2 separate regions of the Homo sapiens genome follow, and region 1 is linked to region 2. A link means that fine-mapping ties the variant in region 2 to the expression of a gene that starts in the linked region. Tissue or cell type: iPS cells. Region 2 holds a variant in brackets; the other region holds the start of a gene. All regions are shown on one strand. Distances are from middle to middle.

Region 1 (2,682 bases), 180 kb after region 2:
TCTGACTGCTATATGATCTAGTCTAAAACACCTTTCCAACCCAAATCAGCTAGCTAGAGATGTTGGATGTCAACAATTCCGCCTTGGGCTTGGACACGGCGTGAGCTTCTTTCTCCTTCTTAAAAAGAACAACAACGGTCATCCTTTTTCCTCCTTCTCTTGGCGGGGGGAAGGGGGAAGACCCCAGAAAACAAAAACAGCAAATCTCAGGTCCGAGGGTCCACGCTCGGCCTGATGGCCAGGCAGGTCCGCGGCCGCCCCAGCCCTGCCCCGGAGGCGCCCCGAGGAGGGCTCGGGCCCCCCGGTGTCATTGTTTGCTAATTTCCTGAGCTGCCCTCCGACTTGTTTACGTTAAATAACATCCCTGCTCCCCCCGCACAACTTTCCCCGCCGCCCGGCGTGTGCGGCCGCGGCCCTGCCTGCCAGCCCGGCGGAGGCACCGGGGGACCGGGAAGGACCGGGGGCTCCGGGAGGGCGCGCCCCCCAGCGTGGACCCCCGCGGGCGGCCGAGGGCGCGGCGCCCGCTGCCTGCCCCCGCCGCCCCGGCGGCCGCTTACCTCGGCTCACCAGTTTGAAGCTCTGGGATTTCCTGCTTCTTTTCCTCTCGGAGAACTCCATGGTGCGGGGAAGGCGGCGGCGGGGGCTGAGGAGGCGGCGGCAGCGGCGGCAGCGGCAGCGGCGGCAGCGGCAGCGGCGGCGCGGGCTCGTGTCACCGCGGCGGAGCCGCCGGGACCAAGGTCCGCGCCTGGAGTCGGCGAGGGGAGGCCGCGGGACGGGAGGAACCACCGCGAGCCGGCTCGGGGCTGCAGGCGCGGGGCCCGGCGGCGTGGGCTCCCGGGCGAAGTTGCCCCCGCGCGGCGCCGCCTCCCGGTGCCCTAGGCGCCCCCGCGGCCCCCGCTCATGCCGGCCCGCGGGTTCCAGACGCCGCCCGCCGCAGCCCAACTTTCCGTTGGGAGCGGGCCGGGCCGGGGCGCGGCGGCGGCGGCGGAGGCGGGGGGCGGCTCGGGGCGGCCGGCCCGCCTGGGCTCAGCCTGCGGTCGCGGCGGCGGCGGCGGCGGCCCCGAAGACGCGGCGGGCGGGCTGCGGGGAGGGCGGCGGCGGGTGCAGAGCCGGCCGGGGCGCTGACCGCCCCCGCGGGAGGAGGGGCGCCGGCGGAGGGGGCGGTGCCGCTGGGACCCCAGGGCCACCTGCTGGCGGAGCCCGGCCGCCGCCATCCCCGGGGGCCGCCGCCGGCCTGGCCGCGCGGCGCCCCGAGGAGGCGCGGAGGCCGCGGCGCAGCGCCCTGGCCCGGGCCCGGCCGGCCTGCCTGCCCCCGGGGACGACGCCGCCGCCCGGGCCTCCGCTCGCAGACCCCGCTCGCTGGCCTCCCTCCGCCGCTTGCTGGGCCGAGCTAACTCCGTGCACCTCGCCGTGGGGGCGCGGACCGCCCCGACAACCACCTCCCCGCCCTCACATCCCGGGCGCCCCGGGGCCCGACGCGCTGATTTTAAGCAAGTTTTAGGGGGAAAAAACTTACCCATTTGCGCTCTCTCTAGAAGGACAGAGAGGAGGTTTTAGAATATTGTGGAGAAGAATATAGTAGAGAGCTCCCATTCCCTAACCCAGGCTGGGCGGATTGTGGAAAGAGCCGAGTCACATTCAAGGAGAGCACTTGGAATGGGGGGCTTGGTGGCCCTGGGGACTCTCAGGAGGCCATGGTCAAGGCAGGTGCAGGGCACTATGCTTCTCCACGTCATATGTCGGAATCATGGACCCAAACACAAAGCGCTTAGTAGTTATGTGTAATATTCTTTTCGGGGGATCAGAGAGCGCACTTCAGGCACCATTTCTTTCTCACATCTTTCGAGTGGGCCAGGAAAAGAATTTCACACTACCTGGGAATGGTAGGACAGGAACATGACGGGACATGCGTGAAAGTATCTGCCAAACCCAACCAGGAAGAGGGTAAAGAGTCGGGGGATGGGGGGGCTACCTCTCCGGCACGGGACAAAGGCCAGTGGCCCCAAAAGAGTAGAGAGGAAAAAGGGGAGGTTGACAAATGTGATGAGTGTCACGTGGGTCTCACCCAAATGAGGCAGCCGCTGAGGAACCGCTCTTATTTCAGGGACACAGAGTAGGACAACTGCCGAGGAAGGGGGACATTGAGGCAGCTTGCAGAAACACACATGGAGAAACAGAACCAAAGAGCAGGGTAACCAGCAAACCAGGCAGTGGAGGCAGGGATGGGTACCCATCCCGAGATCTTGGGTGATACCAAAGGCGGCACATCCGGAAGGCTGGTTATACCTAGCGTGGAGGGGAGAGGGAGAACTGTTTCTTCCGTTCAATAAAGCAAACCCTTCAACAAGAGGTTCTTAACCTTTTTTAGTCACTGTTTCCTTTGAGATTGTGTTCAAAGCTCAAGGGCCCTTTTTCCCAGAAAATATGTATGGGACATATAAAATTTAGTATAGATTTATTGGAGTTCTTAGACGCGCTTTGCTGCTCTCAGAAAATTAGTGGTAACAGTGATTAAAGCAACTACCCTATTTGGGTTTCTTCCTTCCCTGCCACCCCTTTCTTTAAAATCAGGCATTAAAATCTGAAGATGTTTTGGATTTTTTTTTATTTTTTATTTTTTGAGACAGAGTCTCATTCTGTCGCCCAGGATGGAGTGCAGTGGTGCGATCTCAGCTTACTGCA
Region 2 (2,682 bases):
CAGAGGTTGGAGCAATGCAGCTACAAGCTACAGCGGAGGTTGCCGTCAGCATCAGAAGCTGGGAGAGGCAAGGAGGAATTCTTCCCTAGAGCTTTCAGAGGGAGCGTAGCCCTGCCGACACCTTGGCTTCCCGCTAGCAGCCTCCGGGATTTAAACTACCCAGCTTGCGGTCCTTTGTTATGGCAGCCATGGGAAAAGACTCCAGCAGGTCGGAGGTGTATGTGGTGGGGAAGGGATGTGAAGAATCCCCATTTTGCCAGGCTCCCTGGGTGATTCTGATGCTTTTGAAGAACACTGACCTAAGAATTCCACTTCCTCTGAAACCCAGAGGGACGAGAGGCTGCCTGTTCTATACCCCACATCCTGCTCACCCCAAAACAGAAAAGCAGCTCCAGTGACATCACCTTCCTGTCACCTGCCCTTCTCATTCGGGGCTCATGCCATCCAACACTGCCACCATCTGCTGCCAGAAGTGTCACTCCCCTGCATGGTTTGAATCATGCCCATTCAAAAGTGGCCCCTGCTCTGTCATCCCAGGGGATGGAGAGGGTCCATTCTCAGGAATAGCACCTGCTAGATGATGGATGTGCAAATCTGATGACCTTGACCTTAACTCCACTTTAGACACCCATTGTCTTGGCCGTGCTGTGAACCTTCTCGGCCCTGGAAATCTTTCATTTTTTATTCGTTTAGAGATGAGCTCTCGTTATGTTGCCCAAGGTGGTCTCAAACTTCTGGGCTCAAGCAATCCTCCCACCTCAGCCTCCTGAGTAGCTGGGACTACTACCATGCTTAGCTAACCCTGGAAATCTTAAACACCAACACCCTCTCCCCCGTCCCTGAGTCCTCTCCCTTCTTTACATAGGACACCCACACTCTAACTTCATGGGGGCCACCAGTCTCCTGAAGTGGATCCGTTTCATTCTGTTCAGCTTGGACCGTCTGAGGGTAGTTCTGCAGCCTCATCTCACCTCAACCCATTTCATTGACCATGTTCACCCCCACATGTCCAAACTTAAGCCCCTCTACCTGCCTTCTTTGTCCTTCCACTGGGCTGGAGGAAACTCAGAACTTAGAGATCCTGCCATGATGGGCATGTCAGCCCCCAGTGCCAGCCGGGCTTTTCTGACACCTCAGAAATCATTGAGTATGTTATTCCTGATGTTCATTATTCTCCCCAAGGGCTGGTTCACACTTTGCTGCCTTCAAGAGCAGATGCACCTTACAGAAAAGAATTCATGTCCTCAGGGGAAACCCTGTAATTCCCCCACCCTTCCCTGGCCCCACTAGACTCCTCTGACCTCCAGGGTCAGTGTCTCAGAGACAGGACTGCCCTCTGCC[G/A]GTCCCAGGCTGGTCCCTGCCTGTACCCTGACTTCCACCCCTCCAACAATAGCTAACCTTTGTTGAGGATTCACTACATACCCCACTGCACAGTGTTTTAAAGCACTGCTTTTAGAATTCTCCCCACAGTCCCCTGCGGTAGGTTTTCCTTTCATGGGGATGGGAACCAGGGTTCCGACTAATTAAGTAATTTATCCAAGGTCACTGTCTTAGTTTGGGCTCCCCCAAAGTAGACCTGGAGACAAGGATTAGGGAGAAGGGAGTTAGTTAATTTGGGAGGTGATCCTAGGAAACATAAGTCATGAAGCAGACAGGAGGAAACAGAAAGGAGAAAGCCGGAAGGAATGTTAGAGTGGCCTACCAACCGTGGGCACCTGGGACTCTGCCCTGTTGAGGCTGCTCTGAGAAATGGTACGGACCCCCTAGGGCAGGCAGATGAATGACGAACTCCAGTAGGTCTATGTCCCAAGCCCCAGAGCCTGTGACTATGTCATGTTACAAGGCAAAGAGGAATTTCAGTTGCAGGAATTGAATGTACTGATCAGAGCCAAGTGTTGTAGTTCATGCCTCTAGTCTCAGCTACTCGGGAGGCTGAGGCTGGCAGATTATTGGAGCCTAGGAGTTCAAGGACACAGTGAGGTATGATTGTACCACTGCACTCCAGCCTGGGTGACAGAGACCCTGTCTCTTAAAATAATTAAAGAAAAATTTGCTCATCATTTGAGCTTAAAATAGGGTGGTTATCTTGGATAATCTAGGTGGATCCAAGGTAATCACAAGCCTCCTGAAAAGTGGAAGAGGGAATAGAGAGCTGGAGAGATGGGAGCGTGAGAAAGAATTAGACTGACATTGCTAGCTTTGAAGATGGAGGAAGCGGCCACAAACTGAGGAAAACAGGTGCCCCCTAGAATATGGAAAAGACAAGCAGGTTCTCCTTTAAAGCCTCTGGAAGAGAATACATCTAGCTGATAGCTTGATCTTAGCTTAATGATATCTGTGTCAGACTTCTGGTCCACAGAACTGTCAGATCATAATTCAAGCTGTTATAGGAGAGGGGCCCTGATCCAGACCCCAAGAGAGGAATCTTGGATCTCGCACAAGAAATAATTCAGGGCAAGCTGGGTGCGGTGGCTCACGCCTGTAATCCCGTCGCTTTGGGAGGCCGAGGCGGGTGGATCACCTGAGGTCGGGAGTTCGAGACCCGCTTGACCAACATGGTGAATTCCTGTCTCTACTAAAAATACAAAAATTAGCCAGGCATAGTGGCAGGCGCCTGTAATCCCAGCTACTCGGGAGGCTGAGGGAGGAGAATCGTTTGAATCCAGGAGGTGGAGGTTGCAG

Alleles and levels. Alleles are on the strand shown, and positions count from the first base shown. SD is a standard deviation of normalised expression in the study named.
As copies of G replace A in region 2, the expression in iPS cells of the gene that starts at base 1,099 in region 1 goes down (large effect, 1.0 SD a copy in HipSci).

Evidence for each region. PIP is the estimated chance that this variant, and not a neighbour inherited with it, causes the effect.
Region 1: it holds the start of BEND7, and the variant in region 2 is fine-mapped to the expression of BEND7 in iPS cells (HipSci, PIP 0.95).

The regions. Positions count from the first base shown.
Region 1 is chr10:13,527,916-13,530,597 of GRCh38, forward strand. It overlaps BEND7 (BEN domain containing 7), which reads right to left and starts at 1,099. Exons shown (of 9, transcript NM_001369863.1): 1 at 558-1,099. The coding sequence starts at 618. BEND7-DT (BEND7 divergent transcript) reads left to right here and starts at 689. Exons shown (of 2, transcript XR_930674.3): 1 at 689-737; 2 at 2,105-2,349.
Region 2 is chr10:13,351,384-13,354,065 of GRCh38, forward strand. No RefSeq gene overlaps it. Among named protein-coding and RNA genes, the nearest start is that of SEPHS1, 4.4 kb to the left of the region's middle. The variant G/A (reference allele first, on the strand shown) is at 1,342.